Regions from separate parts of the Homo sapiens genome. Here region 1 is linked to region 2. The links come from fine-mapping of genetic effects on gene expression. Tissue or cell type: whole blood. Region 2 holds a variant in brackets; the other region holds the start of a gene. All regions are shown on one strand. Distances are between the middles of the regions. Region 1 holds the start of SLC8A1 (solute carrier family 8 member A1). Region 2 overlaps SLC8A1 (solute carrier family 8 member A1).

What was found.
Region 1: SLC8A1 starts here. The variant in region 2 is fine-mapped to the expression of SLC8A1 in whole blood (INTERVAL, PIP above 0.99). The same link has a PIP of 0.9 or more in neutrophils.

What each region holds. Positions count from the first base shown.
Region 1 is chr2:40,448,522-40,456,858 of GRCh38, forward strand. SLC8A1 (solute carrier family 8 member A1) reads right to left here and starts at 3,569. Exons shown (of 11, transcript NM_021097.5): 1 at 3,383-3,569.
Region 2 is chr2:40,390,800-40,399,136 of GRCh38, forward strand. All of the region lies in intron 2 of SLC8A1 (solute carrier family 8 member A1), which reads right to left. It also overlaps the pseudogene LOC124905995. Among named protein-coding and RNA genes, the nearest start is that of SLC8A1, 57 kb to the right of the region's middle. The variant C/T (reference allele first, on the strand shown) is at 3,448.

The DNA.
Region 1 (8,337 bases), 58 kb after region 2:
AAAAGTGGAAACAGCTAGTACAGAAATCCACTGGTTTTGTTAGCCACCTTTACTACCAAGAATTAGAGCCAAAGTGATAGACAGCTAAGGGAACCATAAGTGATGTCAGATAGGATTCTGGAACCCAGAGAAAGTCAGGCAGAACGTTTGCCACAAGAGGGAGCAGTAGAATTTGGTCAGATGGGAGACCATTTGGTAGGGGTTATGATGAGGGGTGTATGAGGTATGGGAGGTTATGATGAAGGATTTAACTACAAGTATGGGTGATATTTGGATAATATTTTAGCAAAACACATTTATCCTTGGGGGCAAAAACAAAAAGATAAAGGGACCAGGAAGAGTAGAGAGATAATAGCATGTTGATTCCTAAATTCTTAGCAAATATAAAGTGACAATTTAATGTTTACTTGAAAGCAACATACTACGAAAATATAAAACATGCAACATATGTGCTCTAACAGCCTCTTCTAGAGGCTGCATTTCTTTTTCCAGATCTAATTTATATTTCAGTTTGAATTTTGTTTATTGCCATATTTTTAGGGCAGTCTCCTTCTTATCTATATACTATCCTCCCTGTACCTAAAAGGCATCACAAAGAAAGAACTTGTCTCACTGAATTGCAACATTAAAAAAAAAAAACAAAAAACAAAAAACAACAACAAAAAAAAACACACAGACATTAATGTCCCAAAATGCACTTACTTTGAGACAACCACATCTATGAGCTAAATGAATGCCTTGGCTGGCTTTTTAAAGGGGAATTGCAACTTCCTTGGATCTGCACAGCTTTTCTCATCATTTATTTTGTCAAAGAAATAGATTGAATACTAAGAGGAATCATGTGTTTATTTTGCAAGTAAATAAAAGTCTATATTTGCCTGGCAAAAGCATGTTAAACATAGCTTTTTAACAGATGCTGAAGTTCTCTTGGAATATATTTTATTTTTTCAAAACACAGAAAGCTTAACAGAGCAATTAACATAATTCCTGCAAATAGTCCTATAGATGTTACTGACTATACCTCACTTTCCATTTGTAATTTTATTGGGAGTCAAAGCACTGTTACTCCCATGCTCTTTTCTTCCCCTGGTCAACAAAAGGGCTATGTGCTTAATCTGAAACGTTACAGTAGGAACCACTATATAATAATATTAAAGTAAAGACATAGGTAGATAGATACATAGAAAATAAGCCTTCATATTTTAGTTCATTACTCTCCTCCTTCAGCCCTGTTAAGCTTTCAAGACAGTAAAGTCTGATTATCATGACACTCTTACATCCTTTGTAGCCCTATACAGCTCAACAATAAATAATGGTTTATCTCTGTTCAGTCCTTTTTGTTGCTGTTGTTTTTCTAGGAATTAATCATTTTTTTAAAAAAAGACAACAACCATTTTAAGGGGACAAAATCAGGGCTTCTTTTATAGCAGGTGTGAGAAATCTTAGCTAAAGAGCCGTGAGATCCAAATGGAATTCTTCAAGCAGGCAGAATTTGTAAAACGAAAACCATTTAAGAGCACACATCTTGCCTCTTGATGAAATAAGTTGGTCCTCCCCCACCTTCTCACTCACAAGGCCCCAAAGATGGAGCTAGTTTTCCCTTCCTTCCTCCTGCTTTCACACCCGCCTAACCTCCCAATTAAGCAAGTTTAGCAAACCCAGGGAGCTCAATCCAAGTAACACAGGATTTGAAAGAGGAACCTAAAACCAATCATCCCTCTTCCGGCTTTGTCTTCTTATTTGAAATGAATGAAACATCTAGATTCATTTTCCTTTTTTTTTCTGACTCGCTGCAGGAGTAGCTTTGAGAGAGAAAGAGAAAGCATGTGAGTGTGTGTGTGTGTGTGTGCACGCGCGCGCGCTGGTGGGGGCATGGGAAAGAGAGGTATACTTTCAGAATTCTCTCCTGGTGGCTCCCTCTTTCCCTTGGGAAATCTTCGCACAAGTCTCAGATTGTGCATGTTCAACTGCTCATATCTGGAGATACTCCAGCAATGCCTTTAACCAGATCTGATCAGAAATCTCCACCTACTCAGCTAGAGGCTCCTCCATGATCAGGACGCTTGTACTGTCTTCACCACATCTGTCATTTTTTAAAAAGCTTCTTCCACTACACCTCCCACTGATATCCTTTTTTTCTCTTTTTAGTCTTTACACCTCCAGCAGGACAAAGTTTGTATTGTTATATTCACAACCACTAGTAGCTGACTAGCAGGAGAGAGAGAGAGCGGCTTCAGGAGAGCCAGGTTCGGGGGCTTCAAAAGGATACCTAGCGCAAAGCATGACTTTCCAATGACTGCGTACAACATGCACATTGCTCTCTTCTAAAAATGCTTTGTTAAATTTCATCACCCCTGTTCTCAACTCAACCACTACCACTTTGGAGAGGGAAATACAAATTGCCAGCCCAAGCCATTCATCAAACAGCAACAGAATCCACGGGGTGGTGGGGGGGATAGAGAAGAGGCGGGGGTGATGCAGGGGGTGGATTTAAAGAATCAAGGATGCACACGTACTGTATTTTCAAGAGCATCGCCTGGGCGGATTTGGTTTCTTTGGCCGGCTGTCCAGCTATAAGACCGCCCTCTTCTTCATTAAGGAGGAGCCAAAAAGGATATCTTCACATCTCAGAACACAGACCATTTCCCCCAAGAGCCAGCAAAGCTCCAGAGGCAGAGAATGCAGCTGCAAAGTTCCCTTCCAATCTCTTGGGGAAAGATGCCTGTGTGTGCAGAATCCCCAAAGCACACCACGGCACAGTGCCCAGAGACGTGGACCCCGCAGCCCACTCCCTGCTACCCCCTACATTTCTTCCTCGTCTGTCTCTGCCCCGCCACACCTCCCTCCTCTCCGCAGTCCGTGGTGAATGAGCACCCAACGCCCGCTGGAAAACAGGGGGCTCGGAAATGTGGCCTTGGGGAAAGACCCCAGGGATTACCGGAAGGAGGGATGTCCGCGGAGAAGAGTCCAGTGGGTGGGGACGCCTGGATCCCCAGCAGCTCTGCATTCGGGGTGGACTTAGCTCTTCGCGCCCTGAATCCTCAGAGCCCAGCGCGGTGCAGGGTGCAGCATCTCTCCTTAGCAGCCCTTTCTTCCTCCGGCAGCCTGCACTGGCAGGCAGGCAGGCACCCTCACGCCCAGACGCACCAGCCCGAGCAATTTCACTCTGGGAAGCGCGGACACCCAGAAAAATGTGCAGGCGCGCACACACCACATCACACACACACACACACACACACACACACACACACACACACACACACAAATTTAGAAGCCGCTCGTTTGCCAAAGCAGAGGGAAGTGTAGCCTTATGAGCAGCAAATGGAAAATAGTTCTTGGTCTCTGACTAAATGCCTTCTGCCTGTCCATCATAAGATCCTACCTGGTTTGGGGAGTGTGAATGGATTCTTCCTCCGTTCCTCCACGCTAGTAGAAAATACGGCGCACTCCCTCCTTTTAAACAGCTCCCGATCAGGAAGAGGTCGCTCCCATCTTCTGTGGGAAGCACAAAGCAGGCGGCGGCGGCGGGCTGACTACCGTGCAGCGCCGGCGCGAGCGGGAGCCGCGGCAGCGGGCAGCGGTGCGCGCGGGCGGGAGGCAGGCGCGGAGGCCGGGAGGCTGGGAGGGCCGGGGCCCGGGCGCGCGCGCGCTCCCCCTCCCTCCCGCGCACACTCGCCCGCCCGCCGCCCGCAGCCTCGCACTCGCTCACACGCGCGCTCGGCCCCGCGGCTGCCGGGCGCCCCGGGGCCCCCTGCGCGCCCCTTGGGCTCCCCAGGCGATCGCGTCGGGGCAAAGCCGGCGCGTTTCTGGAGCACCGAGCGGGTGGGGAGCCCTTCCAGCCTCCCAGCCTCTGCCGGCGAGCAGCTTTTTCGATTTCCTGCCGGCTCTCGGCCCCGCAGTGCGTTGTGGCCGCGCGCTAGCGCTGTCTCTCGCACCCAGCCCATCGATGACACGCGCACACAGGCGCTGCAACTTTTCTTTTGAACCCTCTTCTTCTCTTCCGCAGACAGAACCCTGACCCCCAATTCGCCTACCCGTTTCTCACCTCTGACTTTGTTAATCCAACTATCTTTCTTCCCTCACTTCCTGCCCTTCTGCTAAAGGAAGCTTTCTTTTAGCAAAAGGATCTGGGCATATATCAATGATTTTTTTTTTAATCCTCACCCTGTGTTTTTCTACGTATCAGATATGCACAACTATACGTTGGCTACTAGATGCTGACACAAGCAAACAGAGATATTCGGGGGAGGGTGTCCCCCGGCCAAGAACTGGGACAGAGTCTCTGTGTTGGTATTTCCCTCAAAGATGCGTTTCACCTGGGAATAAAGACCCAGAGTCTGTTTCGTGTGAAAGGCGTGCTGGTTTTAAACTACAGTGAGGAGTAAAAGCCGAGCATTAAGGTTGAGTGGGAAAAAACCTAATGCAGCAATCGACGAACCATTCTTTGCCCTTTCCAAGAGAAGCATTATCATTGCCAATAAATCACTTTCCTCATAATTAATAAAGGAACACTGCACCAGGCCTTTCCTCTCTTGACAGCTCATTCATTCTTACAAACCCTTAATGACTTCACGTGGTGAAAGGCTAGACCTACTGTGGAGTTCACTAGCTTCCAAACCTGGCTGCGCATCACACACACCTGGGAATGTAGTCAGATGCTGTAGAATCTGAGGCCGAATCTGATGCAGACTCTCCCGTTGTAGGTCTCAAATGGGGCTCCAAATTAGTATTTTTAAAACACCAGTTGCTATCGGCCACTGGTGTCGTTTGCCAAGGTGTGTGGGGGGGTCAGGAGCAGCTACTTGGGGAAGGTGGGAGAAGGAGGGACCTGCAGAGCACAAGGCAGAAAGTTAGTTTTTTTTCGTGGAGACGTCCCCCCATACTTACAGTGCAACCAGGGCAGTCACCACGACTGATAGATTCTGACTCCAGGAACCTCAGTTTGCCTCCGCAACAAAGAGGGGGCGGAATGGAAGAAATAGCCTCTTCTGCCCCTGTGCCAGTGGCTCTCAACCCTCCTTGCACCTCAGAATCTCCTGGGCCGTTTTTAAAAATCCCAGTGCTTAGGCCACACCCCCAAACTGATTAACTTTGACTCTCTGCAGGTGGGCCCCAGACAGCCTTAATTTGTTTTTAAGATGCCTGGTTGATTCCTATGTGCAATGAAGGTTGAGAACCACTGCTCTAGGCCAATACTCCTCAAACATGAATGTGAGTATGAATCACATGGGGATTGCAGATTCTTTTTCAATAGACCTGGAGCAGGCCTGGGGTAGGCAAGTGTTGAAGTGATGCTGAGGCCGTCTGAATGAGGACCTCACTTTAATTAGTCGGGTCTGTTGCCAGCAGTCTTGGATACTGGCTTTGTAGAGGACACTCTAAGCTGCTTCACGTCTTATAAAATTTGCAGGAATCGTTCTTGCCTAAGAACATTTTTCTTTCCTTGCTATAAGTTAAATTTTCTTGGAAGCTACTTTCCACACCAACTTGGTTAGACTACACTTACTAGTGGATATAAACAGAATGACCTGTGGGGAGAGACAGAAGGTCACTGTCTCTTTTAGAATATGTCCTCTACCAAAAATTACTTAGAGTCCCTGAATTTAAGGCAGTGTGAGTAGCAGATATTTGGCTCACACTCAATGAAAGGGGCTTGGAGAGAAAAGTGGCTGCCTTCTAAATAACACTAAGGAAAGCTTATAACTAAAGACTCCACTCAATAGGAAATAGAACACAGCCAAATGAAGGAACCAAGAGAAAGCTAAATGAAAATGTGAGTGGGCCATATTTCACTGGAATAGATTTTGTGGAAAGAGTGTAGCCTCTTATTGCTATGACGGGCCGCTTAGTGAAAGCTGAGATTTTCTTGAAATTTTAGGCATGTTTGTGACATGGAGTGACAAGAACCCTGTTCTTTAAATGTTTATACTCCAGTGATGCCCAAAGTCTGTCTTAAGACTTTTTTTTTTTTTTTTTTTGCTTTGACCATTGAAACTGAAAGGCTACATCTTGGCCACTTGATTCTTCCTCTTTTCCAATCGAAACTGCTTTTAGACTGATTTGGATTCTTGGGAAAAAAACAATATTAAATGGTCTTCTGTTTATCTAGAACTATTGGAGAGGCAGCCTAGTGCCTAGTGATTTGGCATCCTTTTTGGTTCAGTCAGTTTCTGAGCCCCTAATTTTCTTTGCCTTTCATTTCTCTTTAAAGGCATTTTTATAATGGTTCCAGGGCCCCAAGGCAAATCAAACCTTTTGCTCCCTCCTAAATGTCATACATGAGTGAGTTTTTATTGCGAGAATTATCAAAGGCTGCATCACAGGCACAAGGCTGAGGAAGACTATGGCTCTAAGAAAGGAAAAAGTGAGGCTGCTGCAGTCTGTGGCTTTGGAAAGAAGACATGTTGAATGGAGGAAGGTGGTAATTTACATTCTAATAGCAGTAATGTTTCTTAATTGCAGTCTTCCATATTGATTGCCATTCTTTCCTCTGGACTTGGAATTAAGAGTCACCGGGTCTCCACTGTTATCTAACCAAAGCAATACGACACAACCATTCAGGGGACTCCACAGGGATATCACTAAGATTTGATATATTCGAAAGATGTTCTGATGTTCACAAACTATTTCCTAGGAAACCTTCAGGGGATCTGTTAGCAAACTCATTTTCAGACCAAGTGTAAATATTGTGAATTAGGCCCTACTTTTTATCTAGTCTATAGAAAATTTAGACATGTGATCAGGTTACCAAGATTTTTAAAAATATTTAATACTTTACTAAAGCACTCAATATGTTTTCATCATAGGGAAAACAAGCACAATACTCTGTTTAAATTCCTTTCATTTTTACTTTGAATTACATAAATCAGAGGTACCTCTATTGTCTCTTCCATTGCTTCGGGCTTCTGAAATATGTTAATACAGTCTTAGTCGTCCCTCACCTCATTTCTTACTCTGCCAGCCTTCACTAATCACCTATCTGTTCAGTCACAGGCTCAGTTTCATAGTGATTTCTACATAAGAAAATGTTATTACATAATAGCCCCTAGCCTGGCCAGTGAGTGGAGCTTAGAATTAGCCATTTTTCCATACCTAAGAATCTCAGGTGAACCATTGGGTTCCCAGTTTTGTTCTTTAGGTTTTCTTTGCTGATGAGTAGATCCAGGGTTCTTTGCTTTGGGGATGACTTTGAGAATTCTTTGTTGACTTCTAAGTGCTGTTGTTCCTCTTCCCTGGAGACTTGTTCCTGCAGTTAAACTTTTACTTCTCTGTTTTGTTTTGACCAACTGAACACCACTCTTGTACCTCACCCAGTTGTAAACCCTGCTACTGCACAACAGTCCACAGACTGGGGCAGCCTTCCTGGCAGACTCACAGTCACAACTCTCCTCCTCTCTGCATTACCGTGGGGTCAACCACTTCCTCTGAGTCGCCAATGAATTTGTCACAGTCTTTGGACATCAGGGACCTGCAATTCTACATTTGAGCAACTGATATTAAAGAATTGGGTTTGGGCTGGGCGCGGTGGCTCACGCCTGTAATCCCAGCACTTTGGGAGGTTGAGGCGGGTGGATCACGAGGTCAGGAGATCGAGACCATCCTGGCTAACATGGTGAAATCCCGTCTCTACTAAAAATACAAAAAATTAGCCGGGCGTGGTGGCGGGCACCTGTAGTCCCAGCTACTTGGGAGGCTGAGGCAGGAGAATGGCGTGAACCCAGGAGGCGGAGCTTGCAGTGAGCAGAGATCACACCACTGCACTCCAGCCTGGGTGGACAGAGCGAGACTCCGTCTCAAAAAAAAAAAAAAAAAAAAAAAAGAATTGGGTTTGTACAAAATTCTGAGACTTCTGTTTTTCATTTCTGCCCCTTATTAAATTAAGGAAATATCTAGTCTCTGTCCTGCAACTTTATCAATGGTAACTCAATGGCAGAATCATTATCTAGAGCTATTAATTTAGAGGTCAGAAAATAATAGCAGATTGGTTAAGAGCCAAGGCTTTAGAGTCAGAATATCTGTGTTAGATTTTTCAGATCCAGCTGTGTGACCTTGGGGAAGCTTTTTAACCTCTTAAATCTCAATATCTTTGTTTGGAAAACATGGATCATAAACTCTCCCTCAAGGTGCTGTGGGAAGGATAAAATGTATATAGGATGCTTGGCATAGTTCCTGATCATAGTAATTGCTCAGCAAACGATATTGCTGTTATTATTACTGGTAAAGTTTCATAAACATGATGTCAATGTAAATTTTAAAATTTCTATATAATTAGATTCTACATAATCAGGTCATCCAATTATTGATATTGATTATGCTGTTGTTTTTGTTATACAGAGT
Region 2 (8,337 bases):
TCACTCCAAGTGAGCTTAAGAAAATGTAGAGTAAATTTTTTTAAAAGATCTGTGTACCCAATTTGATAGACATTTTATCTTATTTTGGCATTTCTATTCTCAGGTAGCAAATTGCCTGAAAGGGCAAACAATAAATATGGGAGCTACCGCATGGCTCTTTGTGGATATATTTGGAGGCAGTTTAACATGCTGTGGAGATGTTTCTAGAAAGATTACTGACAAGATCAACCATTTTATGAAAGTTGCTTTTATTACCTTTGGATTTTTTCTAACTTGAAAAATATTGCTCTTAAAGTATGCTTCTCTACTAATCCTTCCTGTTGAGCATTCTATTCTCCTTAAAATATATATATATATAAATATATATGTAGATGCGTGTGTGTATATATATTACACACACACATATGTCTGTGTGTATGTGTGTGTGTACATATGCACACTCACAAATAATTAAGTAATTCCATTCTGGGAGAAAGACTTTGAAGAAAAGCAGTTTATTTGCTACTCAGAAAGGGAAAGTGATGTTCGTGGGACATAAAGGGATTTGAATAAATAGGAATAAGTGTCCTTTTAAAAGAAAGCAGCATATGGAACTAGAAATACTTTCTGGAAGCTCTAATCTCCTATTTGAAGAAAATCCAATTGTTCTGGCTGGTGGCAAACTAGGAGATTACAGCTGAATTTCTCTCCCTCCATTCAATGTGAAGTAATCATAGAGCCATAAGGAATTTGACAGGAACCATAAATACTTCTCCTGTAAATCCCTAAAAATTTATAAGAGCATTATGACTTTCATGCTCTTTCTTTCCTAGAGTCTTTACTTCAAAGTCTTCTGAGACTAGAAGAGCCCCTGGAGCAATCATTCTGCTTCCATATCCACAACTTGGAACTCTTAGTCCCAGACCCTCAAATTATAGAACCTGAGGGAAAATTTAGGGGGCACTGAAACCAAATACCTTCACGTGTCAGATGACAAAATAAATCAGGTAGACAAAAAGTGTTAACCACATCACGCAAAGACCAAAACCCAAAGTTCCACATTTTCAGGCAGAGCCCTCAGCCTCATGTCACTAGGCTTCATTTCTACCAATATCGCCCCACTGACTAAATGTCCTTTGTCACTAGAATTGTTTAGTTCTGCATAAATACAAAGTATCGATGATCAAATTTGACTTATTTCTTCTCATTCAGTCCTTAAGTGGAAACAGCAAAATGCTGGTTGCCTTCTCTTAAAAAAACAAACAAACAAACAAAATAAGAAGGAAGGAGAAGGAAGGAAGGAGAAAAATAAAAAAGAAAGCGAGAATGAACAAAGAGTGAACAAATGAACCAACGGAAGAATGAAAAATAAAAGAAAGAAAAAAGAAAGGAAGAGAGGAAGAAAGAAAAGAAAAAAGAAAGAAAAGAAAAAGAAAAAGAAAAGAGAAAGAAAAAGAAAGAGAAAGGAAGCAAGCAAGCAAGCAAGCAAGCAAGCAAGAAAACCTAAAGATCTTTATCATCACATTTAAATAAGAGTAAATCTCAAGAGGCCATCTTATCTACCCGTTCCCACTAGGCATTACTCAACAGAGAACCAATAGCTAGGAACTTCCTCTATTCCTAAAGATTTTCAAGAAAGGAAGAGAAATATCTTGGGAAGTTTAGGAAACATAAATATTTAGGCTCATTTATTGATGAAAGTGGGCAAAATGAAATCATCCTATGCATCTTAGTAATACTATGTGGTATCACAAGCAGCTTGACATAACAGGCTGGTATCAATTGTCATGGGTAAGTGCTAATTGCTGAAGATCTACCAATTTGCTGTGTGCTTTTACTAAAAATATCTTTGAAAGTTCCACAGCCTTCCAAGATTTTGTATTCCTTGATATAACCTTTAAATTGCCTTCTTCACATTCCCTCTTGTTTGTTAGTAATGAAATGCCAATGATCACAGTACCGGAAAAAAGAAAACGGAGAAGAGGACAATAAAAAATCATGGTTATGATTTGTGGAGCAAAGGAGGGCTTTCAGCATTAATATTTACATTAATGTTTACGTTAAAGTGGGACAGATTACACTACTTTTTACTCACTTCACTTCTTCTTACCCTGCATAGAGTTAAATACTTACTGTTTGTGCCTTGTAAGAACTCTAAAGATTATAGTGTACTAGTAAATCTACTTTATTTTGCTGGCAGGAGTCAGCAGACAAAAGAGGAGCAGGAGAAATGTTGTCAAATCAATAGTGATACTGACTGAATTTTATCAGTGTTTCATCTTTAGCTGAACTATATGAACTCATTCAGATTTTAAAAAATATGTAAACTGTCTAATCTATTTTATAGCTCCGTTTTACAGAGTTATAACATGTCAAGAACAAAGTTACAAAATCCAAAACATACAAGTTAGCATCACCTCTATTTTTTTCTGAAAATTCCGAAAGTACAATGATTAGAACACACTTCAAACCTCACAGCTCTGTATTACTTAGGAAAAAAATCCCAACAGCTATCCAGTTGTGCTTTGAGGTCATTTCTCAAAGCATGTGCATTAAGAAACTTAGCAATCTATGTTTATGGTTGCTTTATCTGGTAGTATAATACAATGAAAATCTCACATATAAAATTTATAATGTGATATTTACAGGTTCAAGGGTGGAATTGCTATGTTCCAAATGATTTTCTGTCATCCCTTAGTTCACTGTTTCTTTAATCCTTTAAAACAATCTGTACAGCCTTTGCTGTAAAAGATTATTACATTCTTATTTCCACTGTGTAGTCATAATTTTGAATGTACTCTCTAATTTACCAACATTGTTTCCAATTCCATATAAACCCATATGAGGGTGCTCCCAGCAAAACTAATTAGGGGGATAACTGTGTAATGTGAAAAAATAAAGAATTGGAATATTATCCTTGTGTCATTTGATTTGCCAAAATTCAGCTTGTAACAATTAGATACTACAGTTGGAAAATTAGTGATTTTATTTATATAACAGGATCTGTCATAAAAGAGCCAAACTGGCAAAATCACTAATAGTCATAACCTAAATCACCCAATCAACCAAAATATTATAAAGTTCAGCTTTTATTTTTATGCCTATTACCCTTTTCATGGCAATGGGTTATTTCAAATACCCCACCACAAGCCCTGAGAACACAGCTGGGTTACTTGAAACCAGTAGCTCTAAACCAGTGGTGACTTGCCCCTTAGGTGACATGTGTCAATGACTGAAGACAGTTTTGCTTGTGGCAGTCTGGGGGATGCTACTGACATTTTGTGTAGGGCTCAGGAATGCTGCTAAACATCCTACAGTAGTGCACAGGACAGCCCCCCACAAAGAAGAATGACCTGGGCTAAAATGTCAACGGAGCTTAAAAAAAGGTTACTAGTCTAAGTGAGCTTAAGTTGAGAAACCCTGCACTAACATTAAGAACTATGTGTCCAACACGGTTGCAACATGTTA[C/T]GCAAACACCTGCATTTTGTGGGGTGGGGGGTGAATACAGCCATTCTAGGGAGAGTAATTTGTTCTAACTTGGGTATTTCTGCCCAATAAGCTAGTAAGATATTTGCTTTTTCTAACGTGGATTCATCAGGGCACTGAAATTTAACTATTTTATTTAAAATATGGTATATACTATTTCTTTGTGGTTTTTCTGTTAGTGTGTGTGTGTGCGTGTGTGTGTGGTGTGTGAGTGAATTTCTGAAACAGAGCGGTAGCAAGCAAATGGCAGATTTGGTTTTATCATCAAGTTTCTGTTAGACATTTCGATAAGATTATACAGAGCATATAGTGGATGCCTACTACATATTTATTGATTTTTGAAAATAAAGTTTGTGAACCTATTTCTGCTATCTTCCTCTTTAGAGAACTGTGATTGCATTTTTCTTCTTTTTTTCTAACATGTATAGAGTGCCTGTTGCCATAGTAATCACTGATTTAGCACAACGTGTTTTTTCCTCCTTCTTTAAAAAAAAATTAGTTCCCATTCCTGCCAAAAAGGAACATATTAATCTACCCATCATGCTAGCTTGGGGAAGTTGAAGGCCACAGAAGTTGTCATTTGTGCAAAGACTCCCAGAAAGTCAGTTGTTAGCATCTTCTGTGCCAAGAACTCTACCCCAATCCCAGAGAGGAAATGAGACACTGAAGTAAAAGATTCTGGAGCTGAGGAGGTAACATCTCTCTTCTTTTCTGCAAAGTCCCACAAAAGATGTGCACAAATGCTCATGTCTGTGTAAACAAATTCACCTACTGATTATAGATTTAACAGACCACTGATGTCCAGAAAACAGGGACTAACTAGACAGTGCTCTTTAAGACAAAAGTTTACCTTAATCTACTTACTTCTGAGGGTAGGGGAACAACAACAAAAGCAACAACTAAAGAAACAAAAACCTTTTGAGAAGTCTAAAAGAAGTAGAGAAATCCTACTGAAGAAACCAACATCAACAGTTTCATTTCTTTATCAAATAAAAAGTCCGGCCTGAGTCTCCTGACTGACTACATTCTTTCTAGTATTAGGTAAATCAGATCTCAAATCTGATCTAGCCCTGCTATTCAGACCACGAATTCCTGTAAACATACCTATCTAGAACTGTGTGCAGGCCCCTCTTATGACAATGGTCTGTGCTCACCTGGATTTTTATCACTGGCACTCTTAGTCAGGACCACCAGATTCTTCCTAATTTCTCAAGTCAAATCCGAAGGCTACCCTGCTTGTGGTGTTCCATAACTCTGTCTGGCCCCTCATGAGAAATGCCACCTACTTGGATGAGAGCATTTAAGTCAGAGCAAGACAGCACAGAGGTTGACTTTAGGTTCCCATCTGACATATTTACTGTTCTAAGAGAGGAAAGGTAGTGGAAGAGAAAGAAAAACTAAAGTGGAACTGCAGGATTTCTGATTTTCAGAAATGTCTGCTTATTATCAGAGTGATAAGAACTCAAAATTAAGACATGGGAAAGGAAAAGATAGGGATATAGAGTCAGAGCTGTTCCTTAACCAAAGGCTTTACAGAATTAGAACACAGCTGACACAGGAAATTCAATGCAAGAAGGTCCTGCTCTAAATAAAAACAGATGAGGAGAAAGTCCATTCATTTTTACTAATAGTATGCATGGAGAATGAACACACGCTGCCTTTTACATAGACCCTTATAACTGTTCATACTGTTCTGTAAAATCAGCATATTTCTTATTATTTTCTTCTGGGAAAAAACACTTGGCTATGCATTTCCTTTTAATTTCATGGAAATGGGAAAGGGGTAAAAGGAAAGAAAGATAATACTTCCTGAAAACTTGAATGTTTTGCTGAAAACACCCTTAAAGGAATGTATCTCTGTCAGGGTAACAAAAACATTTAATAAAATATTTTTAAAGCAGTTGGTCTCTAAGAGAAAATGTGAGGTATATGTAATTAGTAGCAAATATGCATTCAATTGTACTAAGCATGACCATTCTTCCCCTTTAAATCCTCAATCCATGAAGTGTGTTTGTTAATTAGGCAGTAACTTGAAGAGCGCTGCTTTTCCCATAGAAGTCAGGTGCTCAACTACTCAACCATGAATCTCTACGGTTACATGAATCTATGAATGGTCTGCAAACCACTTATACTCCAGGTTTCAATTCTGCTGCCAGTAATAATAGTAATAATACCATCATTCTATTCTAGTAGCACAGTGCAAATTTAAGATAATTAGAAGATGATGATAGAAATTTGAAAGCAATGGATTACAAAACAAGACTGCATCAAAGCATAACACGCAACACAACACTTTTTCAATTATGTACATAACCTGGAAAAACTAGTTGGCAATGAAAAAAATGTGTTGAGAAGTACCTTATTAATTCATTAAATATTTCTGTAATCCTATGTTTCTTTAAAAAGAAAAAAAGATTACTAGTCTAAGTGAGCTTTTATCTTTGTTAAGCAGCATCCTTTTAACCTCCATCATCTCTAATAACTAAAAAAAAAAAAAAAAAAAAAAAAAAAAACAAGAGAAGTTAAAGAAGCAAACCAGCAAGAGAAACTGTAGTTGCTGTATCAATGACAATTATTCCAGTGATAATGACCTGACTTTTTGGGTTGGTCTTCTAGCTAGTCCACAGGGATCCACTGTTCAGGACGGTGTTAGGGGAGGTGGGCTTTGTCATTTTGCACAAGGTTTGACAGGTTTCAGGGTTTAAATCTGCAATTTCCATGGCCCTGGAAAAGTAATGTCTAAATATTGCTTAACTGAAAGTTGCTGATGAGAATATTTCAGTGCTCTGTGCAAAGAGTGGATCCGTGGATCAGTTAATTTTATTGAACAGAAAAAAGGTGAAGTATTGTTGTAGGGATTGAATGAGAACAGATACACAGTGTTTAAAGTAATTCCTGGCACATAGTAGATATCCAAGAAGGTGTCTGACTCCACCCCTTCCTTTTCTCTCTTTCTGAATTGTATTCCACTGTCAGCTGCTAGTGTATACATGTCATGAGCTAATGTGCCCATTGATGGTTTAGCTTATGACTTTCAGGTCAGTTTTCTAAGTTGATAAAAACAAGCATTATAGATAATAAAATTCAGAGGCAGTTCCAACATGGAATAATTGGCTTGTCTCATTCCATAGTCAAAGCTCATCTCAACTAAGTTTTCCATTGCTCACAGTGAGGACTAGGGAAGAGGAATTGCTGCAAATCCATTTTCACAGGTGGGTAATCAACACAAGAAGCACTGTCAACTGATTGTGGGTGTGAAACCATCTACGCACTTGAAAGTTTTCATGTTATCATTACTATGTATCCACATACATTTGCCGAGCCTGACCGTTCCAGATCAGTCTTCTGAATGCTAGCTGCATATCAGAACCACATATGTATAGTTTCATAAATGTGACAATACTCAGGCCCTACCCTGAGACAAGTGGCACAAAGCATTCAGAAGTGGAAAGGATTCTCACCAGGAGAACCACTCTGAGAATCAATAGAAACAGAGATCCAGGTCAAAGAAAAATATTATCTTTCTTCCCTGGGAATCACCAGCATTTGCACAGACTTCTACAACTAGCTACATGACCCAGGGCAATTTCTTAAAGTGGGACACAGTGTGCTCTGAATGCAGACCTGACACTAAATTTATCATGGTTGGGTAGCTGCTGCCTTATGGAGAATGGCCTGTGGGACACTGAACTTACACATTAAACAGCTGAGCCAACGGATGTTTCAACTGCCAGGAAAATAACAGAATGGGGAGACCCTCTGTTCATTTGACACCAGTGCCAGCTTGGAGAAACAGCATTTCTTCTGCAGTTATTGAAAGAAAGTAACCCAGAAGTACCCACAGTCTTTTAGCTCTTAAAATATGGAGCCACTTTTTCTTTTCCAGCTTATTTCCAATGCAAACCTGATTCCAGGCTCAAGAGAAGTACAACGTGCCTTGGTCCCTTCTCCCTAGTCTTGGTCAGCTTCTTCAATTCCTCTTGCTGATCTGGCCTCCAGTTTGGCTGGCTTTTTAGAGGAGTCTCTCAGCACTACCAGCAGAGTCTTTTGACCTATGTTACTAACGCGTGTATCATATCTAGATCCACTCCTCACCATATGTCATGGTACTGTCTTGTTCCTGGTTATTGGTGGTATATTTGTTTTTCTACTGTATGTAGTTAAATTTTAAGTAACTTAAAGAATTACAATAGCAATACAATTTCATTATAAAAAGCAGAATATGTGGATAAACAGAAAGAAGAAAATAATATCCACTATCATACCATTAAGGTGACCCACTAACACAATTTTCAAATAAATTTCCTACGTACATATTTTATTTTTATAAAAATGCAATCATAGAATAGTCAATATGATTTTTAAAAGTCCCTTTTATGAAATAAAATATGTGAACATCTTTTTGTAAATAATTATTCATTTGAAACATTCTTTTAAAATGGCTGTATAGTATTTCCTTGTGATTTTCATAACCATCCCCATATTGATATTTAGCTTGTTTTGAATCTTCTGCTGTTATAAACTATGCTAGGATGACAGTTACAGCTCTTCTTCAACTGCTACTACCCAGTTTGATTGATAAATGACACACTTCCCTTGGCCTAGGAAGAAGCAACAGATTCTGATGTTTGCAAAATTTGTCAGTGTGGCTTATCAAGAAACAGACTCTATCTCTCTATTTATCTATCATCTATATATTTGACAAAACATTTTGAAAAATGACTTTTAAAAATGAAATAAGGAATGTAAAGTCACAAACAGCCCAGGGACCCAAATGAGAAAGCATCTGTCAGAGATTCATCAGTCAGGAGTACCTATTATTTTAACATTTTCATGGTCATATAAGAGGAAAGAACAGGTAAAACAGCCAAA